Linked DNA regions of Homo sapiens. The protein of the gene in region 1 purifies or fractionates together with the protein of each later gene. This does not show direct contact. Each region holds a gene or a part of one and is shown in the gene's direction. Other genes may lie near its edges.

Region 1 (4,600 bases):
CTCTGTTTCTGTCTCTCTCTGTCTCTCTGTATCTCTCTCTCTGTGTCACACTCCTCCCACCCAGTCTTTGCCTCATCAGCAACATTTCTGGAAGGCATTGCCTGCACAGCTCCCACTTCCTCCTGTCCAAACTGGCTCAACTCTGCCCCCTGATGCACACCCCCAACCTCCAACCCTGGGCTGCAAGGGTCCTCCCACCAGGCCTCCCCGTTCCAGCATCCCTGGTTTCCTTGCCTGCAGATTGGGCACCACTCTTTGAATTTTTTCCCATCATGTTTGTTTTTCAGATCATTTTAGGCCTTATTGACTTTTAAAAGAGGAGGAAAAAAACGTGAAACAAGTGAAGAATGAATAGGAAATATCTTTGACTCGATCAGATTACAATATTTGCCTTAGAACATTCTTATTTCTCTCCTTAAAAATATTAAGAAAAACTATCCAAACGACTTCTACCTAGTCACCCTGGACTAGGACATTGTCTAACAAGCCACCTTTAGGGTCATTTGACGCTGAAGGGAGGGAGTACTATTATATTTACCCATGACCAAAGCCCCTGCTAACCTGTGGAAGACTGAGGAGTGGCAAAGGATTTTTGTTTGGTAGAGATGCAAACGAATTCTGTCCAATAGAGAGGTCTGGTTTCACTGGGCTGTAGGGCATCAGCCAGATTCACATGAAATTTAGCAATCCCGTTTCAGTCATCTTTCACTGACTGCCATCCTCTTTGGAAATGGTGTACCATCCTCCTTGAGTTAAATATATCGATGTATTTAACTCAGGCCATTCCGTTTATTTCTAACATTTTGAAAAGGGAATTGTGGAGGAAGTCAGCTTTTTTTTTTTTTTTTTTTTTGAGACGGAGTCTTGCTCTGTCGCCCAGGCTAGAGTGCAGTGGCGTGATCTCGGCTCACTGCAACCTCCACCTCCTGGGTTCAAACGATTCTCCTGCCTCAGCCTCCCGAGTCGCTGGGATTACAGGCGCCCACCACCGCGCCCGGCTAATTTTTGTATTTTTTAGTAGAGATGGGGTTTCACCATCTTGGCCAGGCTGGTCTCGAACTCCTGACCTCATGATCCCCCCCCCCCCCCCCCCCGGCCTCCCAAAGTGCTGGGATTACAGGCATGAGCCACCGCGCCCGGCCAGAAGTCAGCTTTTACATAGTGTTCTGGTGAGGGATTAGAAATTAAGTGTTTTTGCAAAATAAAGTTCATTGTAAAAGACTCTAAGCGAACAATCCCTAACCCTTAAAATGTACCAGGCATTGGTCGGGCTGCTGTGAATGTTCCGGGAACTCGTCTCTCTCGGGGGCGAGCGCTATCACCGCCGGGCTCCAGCCTGTCTCCCAACCACCAACCTGCGCTGCTCTTTGTACCATTCAAAAGTGCCTTCAGAGGGTCTAGATTGAAGTACGGGGCAGGGCAGGCCTGAAGCACAACTGACGGCTCCGTTGAGAGCAGGCCCGCAGCTTCAGCTCCCCAGAGGGCGCCCCACCGCACCCCTCTGCACCCCTCTGCACCCCATTCATTGCCCAGGCTCCGCCCCCTGCCCAGGCCCCGCCCCTGTCCAGGCCCTGTCCCCGCCCTTCCCGGCCCAGACCCCGCCTCTCTCTGCCCTGCGCCCCGCCCAGGAGGCAGGATGCCCGCAGCGGCCGGGGGCCGAGCGCCGCCTGCTCAGCTCCACCCCATAGTCCAGCCTCGCCGACTCCGCCTCTTTTGACACTACGCCTGCGCAAACAGTCATCCCCCACGACCACGCCGTCGCCTTGTGCGCTTGCGCGCGTCCAGGCGCTCCCGTGAGGCAGTGCGAGGCGCGCGGGGCACGGAGGGCGGTGGCGGCGGGCTCCTGCGAGAAGCAAGCGGAACTTCCTGAGGTGACTGACGCGGGCCTCGGTTCTGGGCGCAGGGGTGTGGGGCTGGAGGAGTGGCCGCGATCCCCGTCTGCACCCAGGTGCCTCTTTTTTTTCCTGCGCTCCTGGGGGCTCCTTCCAGGTGCTCCAGCAGCTGCCCGGGGATCAGGGCCCGGTCCGCTGGGCGAGGAGCTGGGGCGGGGGCTGTGCGGGGCCTGTCACCCCCGTCTTCTGCAGCTCGGTGTCGACGGCGATTCGGTGGGCTTGTGCGTTTGTTTTGTCAGCGTGCTTAGGTGTCACAGCTGGGTGACCCTCCGAAGGAAGGTTTTGCCGCTGGCGCGTCTGGTGTATCGCGGCCTTGGGGCCGCGGATCCCTGGGGCTTGCCGCTGCCTCTGGGGTTCGCGCGGCCCTGGCGTCGGGGCTGCCTCAGCGCTGGCTGAAGGCCGGCCCGAAGCACCCTTAATTGTGGCCGCGCGCTTCCCTGCTGCTCCTGCTGTTCTCCGCGTCGCGGTGGTGGACTCTGGAGGTGGAGCCTTGCCCGGCGAGACGTTGAGGTAAATATTTAGTTGATCTTCAGAAGATGTGCCATGCTTATTTGCGTCTTCTTACGTACGGAGGGCAGGGAAGAGAGGCTGCCTAGCCTCCTGGTGGCTTGGGTTTGTTTGGATCCATTTATTTTGAATTAAAAACAAATGCTGCTCTATAAAGTGTAATGCATTTTAAACCATTTTATCTTTGGAAAAAAAGATAAAATGGATCCAAATAGATCCACTTTCTTGTTAATTACTTTTCGTTACTGTTGCGGTTTTCTGAGAACTAGCCTAATTGTTTCTGTTTCTCTTTATCATCATCAAACATTGCAGCTACGACTACCTGTCATTTATCCCGCTCTCGGATATCATGTGATATTTGTCTGTGTCTTCTTTTTAAAAACACTGTCGTCATATTTGTGGTCTAATACTTGTTTTCTTCCCCCCTAGGAGGAATCATTATAGATTCTAAAAATATATTTTCCCTTCTCTGTGGACTTGGTATAAAACGTAGCTTTTTTTCTGCTTGGATTTATTTTCTAAAAATCAACACCGTAAACCCATATCAGATACAACAAAATTGGGGTAGTTAAAACCATGAGTTGTGGAAATGAGTTTGTGGAAACATTAAAAAAAATTGGTTATCCCAAAGCTGATAATCTTAATGGAGAAGACTTTGACTGGTTGTTTGAGGGCGTTGAAGATGAATCGTTTCTGAAGTGGTTTTGTGGGAATGTGAATGAACAGAACGTGTTGTCTGAAAGAGAATTGGAAGCTTTTAGCATTCTTCAGAAATCAGGCAAGCCTATTCTAGAAGGGGCGGCATTGGATGAAGCTCTTAAAACGTGTAAAACTTCTGATTTGAAGACACCTAGACTGGATGATAAAGAGCTGGAGAAATTAGAGGATGAGGTTCAAACTCTACTGAAATTAAAGAACCTAAAAATTCAGCGACGTAATAAATGTCAATTGATGGCTTCAGTAACTAGCCACAAATCTCTGAGGTTAAATGCTAAAGAAGAAGAAGCCACTAAAAAGCTGAAGCAGAGTCAAGGAATTCTAAATGCAATGATCACTAAGATCAGTAATGAACTTCAGGCTCTTACTGATGAAGTTACACAATTGATGATGTTCTTCAGACATTCTAATTTAGGTCAAGGGACAAATCCACTGGTATTTTTATCGCAATTTTCCTTGGAAAAATACCTAAGTCAGGAAGAGCAAAGCACAGCAGCATTAACTTTGTATACCAAAAAACAGTTCTTTCAGGGTATACATGAAGTAGTTGAAAGTTCAAATGAAGACAATTTTCAACTTTTAGATATACAGACACCATCTATTTGTGATAATCAAGAAATCCTTGAGGAGAGACGACTAGAGATGGCTAGACTGCAGCTCGCATACATTTGTGCTCAACATCAGTTAATTCACTTAAAAGCAAGTAATTCGAGCATGAAGTCAAGTATAAAATGGGCAGAGGAGAGTCTTCACAGCCTAACCAGCAAGGTAAGCATAAGAAATGAGATTGGATTCACATTGTAATTATTGTTAGGAATAGAGGAGATAATATTGCTGTTAAAGTACTTTAGAATGGTGCATCTGAGAAGAGATTACATTTTATTTTCTTTGTTCAGTGCTTATTTGTGATCTGTGTCAATGTTTCATACAAATAGTTCCATACGTTAATGGAGGGCAGCAATAGTAATTATAATCTCTACCACATTATCTAATTTATTTTAAACAAAAGTGCTTTAATTTGCATTCCGAATTTTAAATTTGTGTAATGCAGATACAGACTGGACTGAGATTTTCTTTTTAAGATGTGGCTAGAAACTAATTGCTTTATTATGGGTATTCTGCCTCGTTTGCTCCAACCAGAGCATAGTGCTAATGAAGTCAGAGGTCCAGGTTCAGTAGACTGAAACTGATTTCTTTTTGAGAATATATGGATAGATGTATTGCAGATGTCTGTCTGCACTCTTGGAGAGCTTGTTTTCTTGGTAATATAACTGCTAGATACTTGAGTAAAAATGTAACTTTTCTGAATCAGAATATCAGCACCAAGTTAGTTTCTATAGCTGACAAAACATTTGAATGATATAGGAAATCCAATAATTACGTAGAAGTGCTAAAATCAACTGGCCAACTAGGACCTATTGAAGTAATTTTAACTTAAGAAAAACTAGTAACATATACTTGGATTCAGTGAATAGTGTCCTATT
Region 2 (4,351 bases), on another chromosome or scaffold:
GGGTTCACGCCATTCTCCTGCCTCAGTCTCCCGAGTAGCTGGGACTACAGGCGCCCGCCACCACGCCCGGCTAATTTTTTGTATTTTTAGTAGAGACGGGGTTTCACCGTGTTAGCCAGGATGGTCTTGGTCTCCTGACCTGGTGATCCGCCTGCCTCGGCCTCCCAAAGTGCTGGGATTACAGGCGTGAGCCACTGCGCCCGGCCAAGAGTTGATGTTTTAAAAATTATAAAAGAGAAATGACAATTTGAAGGTATTTTTAAGGATTTATTTTTAAACATTATCCTTCCTTTCATTGTCTTAACAGTAAATTACTTCATCTTTGCTCATTCATATGTATTTTCACATTACTGAATCCCTAACACCCAGTTTGGGGTTTGCTTTGCCTTTTTTCACTTAACCTTATATGGGATTTTTTCTTGCAAGTTTAATTTTTATAAGTTTATTGGCTTCATAATGTATTGAATTCATCTGTCATAACCACCTCCATATTACTAGACTGGGAAGTTCATAATTTTTTTCAGTATTACCAATAGATATTATTGTCAATTGCGGTATCACATTTTCTTTCGTTTAGATTACGTCTTTAGGATAAATATCTGGAGCTCAGATTACTAGGTCAAAGGGTAGAGTTTATTTTTATGACTACAAGTTTTGTCATTTTTGGTAAGATATATCACAATTGACAATGAGGCAAACAAATCAACTAGCCCCCTCCTGCTCTTTCTTCCCAGCAAACTCCTTCCCCAAACTAGTTACTTGAATTTGAGAAACAGTATGAGGTTTTGCCTTTTGGAGACATTATTATTTGAGCCAAGTTTAGGTTATACAGATTTTTTAAAAAAATAACATGATTTGGCAAGATCATGATGAACCTCCTTTTCTTTGAGTAAATTAAAGTACTACTGGCAAATAATAAACTGGTCTTAGGAGGGATGGAAGGCGGATAAGCCTTAATGGAAGTAGAAGTGATCTGATACTGGAGACCCTGAGAGCTTGTCTCTGGCTTATTTTAGCATCCGGGAAAGCCTTGAATATTATGAAAGATAGATTGTAGCCCGATGTCACAGAGCCTTCTTACTTAAGTTTGGCTCAGCAGTCTGGCAATTCCCGCCTGAGTCTTCGCTATCCTGGCTACTGCAAAGCTGGGTAATTTAAATTGAGTGGCACTGATAAATGCTCAAAGAACTTGGCAAAGCTTAAAGATACTTCCTTTCCGCTGGTCTACGGACGTGAAGAATGAGACTTCCAGTTTCCAAGGAATTTGCTGCATAGACTCTATCGCCGGTTTCAAAAGTCAAACTGAGACGACTTTCTACTTTAAACAAACACTAGGGATTTGCTGGAGTGGCGACAACCTTCCGCCGCGTACCTTGAGCCCTTGTTTTTTTTTTTTTTTTTCGGAGACTTCCATTGGATGCCGAAGTTCTCGCCCCCTCACCTCGCACCGGGACTGGTTGATTCCTGGCCTTGGCGGGTGATTGGTCGAGCTCGCTGGGCTATTGGGCGCTGGGAGTCGAGGGGGCGGGAGGCGGGAATTCGTCTCGGGTTGTGTGGTTGAGGGGTCTGGTGGGTCGAGGAAAGGTAACGGCGGCCCCAGTCCTGCACACAAGGCCGGGGAAGTAGCAGCACCCCCAGGAAGAGGGAGGAGGAAGGGCTCGTGCCCTTTCTTCTCTTCCAGGGCTCCGCTTTATTTGCTCTCAGAAGTCGGTTTCCTTTCCTTTTCTTCAGTGAATCGGAGCTCAGAGCGTTGCTTCGGTTTCCCTCCAGACAGGCAAGTCGGAGGGAAGTCCACGGAAAGGGCTTGAGTTCTTCTGCACAGCCTGCGGGCCCATGGGTGGTGACTGGATCACCAGGGTCTCGGGGATCTCAACTGGCTGGGGGAGGAGGGAGATACGGGGCAGAAAACCTGAGGAGGGAGCCTATCCTTACCTCCTTTGAGCGCAGGCCTGTTCTTAGCCCGGGCGCTGCGTTAATTCTTGGCGGGAGGCAGAGGGGTGTGTTTATCCTTTATGCAATGTTTGGGGGAAGCTACCCCATTTTGACACTATTGTTGCCACAGCCGGGGTACAGGACGGGCTGATTTCTAGATTATATCTGAGTAACTAGGCCAGCGTTGAGTTGTTGATTCATATTAAGAGGTTAGATTCCACCATACCTCATTCTCAGAGCTTTACAGATAGAATCGCAAAATGTTAGAGCTGGAAAATACCCTAGAATAATGGTTCTTCTTTTGGAGCACACAAGCAGTGGTGAATGTTATTATTGGCTTCATAATCTATTGAATTGCTATTTTAACCATCTCTTCGTCCCCAGGTTGAATTTACAATTTTTTCCCACGACTGCAAATAATTCCTTATTTAATAACAGTGCATGTAATTTCCCCCGCTATTTTGATTTCCTTGAGATATATTTACGGGAAGAGAAATCTATGGACTTTTTCTTCAGAAAAATGCAATCATGTACAGAAACTTATGCTTGCAATTTCAAGAGGTCATTGTCTCTGAATTACATCCGTGGATCCTAGGTTAAGAAAAGTGGTTTAGAAGAGGTGAGGATTAAAGTGATCCTCATCTGTATCAGATCCTGGGTTAGGTACATTCTGCCCTGGCTAATTTTCATAAAAACCCTGTCAGGTAAGTAGTAGTATTTCAATTCCATATATGGAGAAACAAGCTCTGAGAAGTTAAGTGATTCACACAGTGGAATTCAAACTTAGGATTGCCTTACTCCAAAGCCCATCCTGTTTCTATAATACTCTACTGATCTTCAAATAACATTTTTGAGTGCCTACTATGTGCCAAGGCATTCTCTTTCTTATAACAGCCTTTAAATTAAATTAGGGGTTATCACAGGTAAGGATCTTAGACTAGAGAAGTAAAAAGATATGTCAAAGATAACATACCTGAGTCAAAGATAACATACCAGGCAGTATACCAAAACCTGGTATAGAACCTATGCTTCCTGACTTCTGGTCAACAGCTTTTTTCTTCTAACTGGAGGACTGCAGAAAGGGGTAACACAAAGGGGAAGAACTGGAGAAAGAGTGATGCTACGGAGTTGTAGAGAGAGAGGCCTCAGGAACTTATTTGTTTCTGTAGGTTGATTACATCTGATCTAACTGTTACAAGAGCTCATGTTTAATCTGGTATGTACTTTATCATATTTGCACATTATTTCACTTAATCATTACCACAATCCTATGGGGTACATGCAGTCACTGTGGCTTAGAGAAGGTAACTAACTTTCCCGAAGTCACACAACTAATACCTGGCAGAGTGAAGGATACAAATCTAGATTTGTTAGACTCTAAGACATGCTCTTGACCGCTGTGATTTATAAGACTAGGAAATTATTTTGTTTCCATTTGTTTTGTTTATACTTTTATTAATTCCAGTTTCTGTTTCCAGATTTCTCCCTTAGTTTTGGTTCTCTGGTTTTCTTTGTAAGGCGTGTCTCAATATTTGACATTTTCATTTCTGTTGTAGTTAGGAATCTGAAATAAACAGGAAAGCACTATGTCTTCAATGTGGTCTGAATATACAATTGGTGGGGTGAAGATTTACTTTCCTTATAAAGCTTACCCGTCACAGCTTGCTATGATGAATTCTGTAAGTATTTTTCAGCAGTTAAGTTTTTATTAAGATATAGATACTTATGACCCATAAAGTACATTGAGTATTTGACTGCATTCATATTCTCAGTAAATGGAGAATATTTTCTGGGTTCACTTGGAAGAATATCTAACCTCTGGGAAACTACTGATTGCAGCTAAACTGTATATATCTGTGGTTAAGGCAAAGAAGAACATTCTGAAAAATGTTCTCAGCTCATTTGGAATTTCTATACTTTTAATGAAAAACTGCTATACTTTTAAGTAAAAACAGAGTATTTACTATCTTTTACACAGAATACTATTTTTCTCACCATTGTTTTGTTTGGATCATGTAGAAAATTAATATACAAATTTGAGTAAACCAGCTTTCCAGTTTTGTTACAGCTATTTTGCCATATGTACTTCATATCTTATTTACTGGTAACAAGATTATTAGTATCCTGAATTTGTTCTTTTCCTTTCCTAGCCATGTTTTTATACTTTTATTACATATATATGTATCCATAAACAATATAGAATATTATTTTACATATTTGAAACTGTGCATTGATGTGATACGGTACCTTACTTTTTATGCAGAACTTGAGTTTTTTAACTTAGCATTATTTTTAATGTATAGCCCTGTTGATTCTTAATCCATTTTAATTGTTGTATAAATTCCATTGGATGAATATACCAGAATTTATCTGTCCATTTTCTTATTGGTAGACATTTAGGTTGTTTACATTCTTTTGC

Evidence for each region.
Region 2: the proteins of POLN (region 1) and BRIP1 purify together in Homo sapiens (affinity purification with western blotting; one study listed by BioGRID). This does not show direct contact.

The regions. Positions count from the first base shown.
Region 1 is NC_000004.12:2,239,322-2,243,921, reverse strand, and holds the start of POLN (DNA polymerase nu), read left to right. Parts: upstream 1-1,800; 5' UTR 1,801-1,871; intron 1,872-2,131; 5' UTR 2,132-2,402; intron 2,403-2,828; exon of another isoform or gene 2,829-2,975; coding exon of another isoform or gene 2,976-3,884; intron 3,885-4,600. Other genes in the region: HAUS3 (HAUS augmin-like complex subunit 3), read left to right, coding at 2,976-3,884. UniProt on the Homo sapiens protein: DNA polymerase with very low fidelity that catalyzes considerable misincorporation by inserting dTTP opposite a G template, and dGTP opposite a T template. Is the least accurate of the DNA polymerase A family (i.e. POLG, POLN and POLQ).
Region 2 is NC_000017.11:61,860,707-61,865,057, reverse strand, and holds the start of BRIP1 (Fanconi anemia group J protein), read left to right. Parts: upstream 1-1,529; 5' UTR 1,530-1,774; exon of another isoform or gene 1,775-3,148; intron 3,149-3,488; 5' UTR 3,489-3,518; coding exon 3,519-3,611; intron 3,612-4,351. UniProt on the Homo sapiens protein: DNA-dependent ATPase and 5'-3' DNA helicase required for the maintenance of chromosomal stability. Acts late in the Fanconi anemia pathway, after FANCD2 ubiquitination.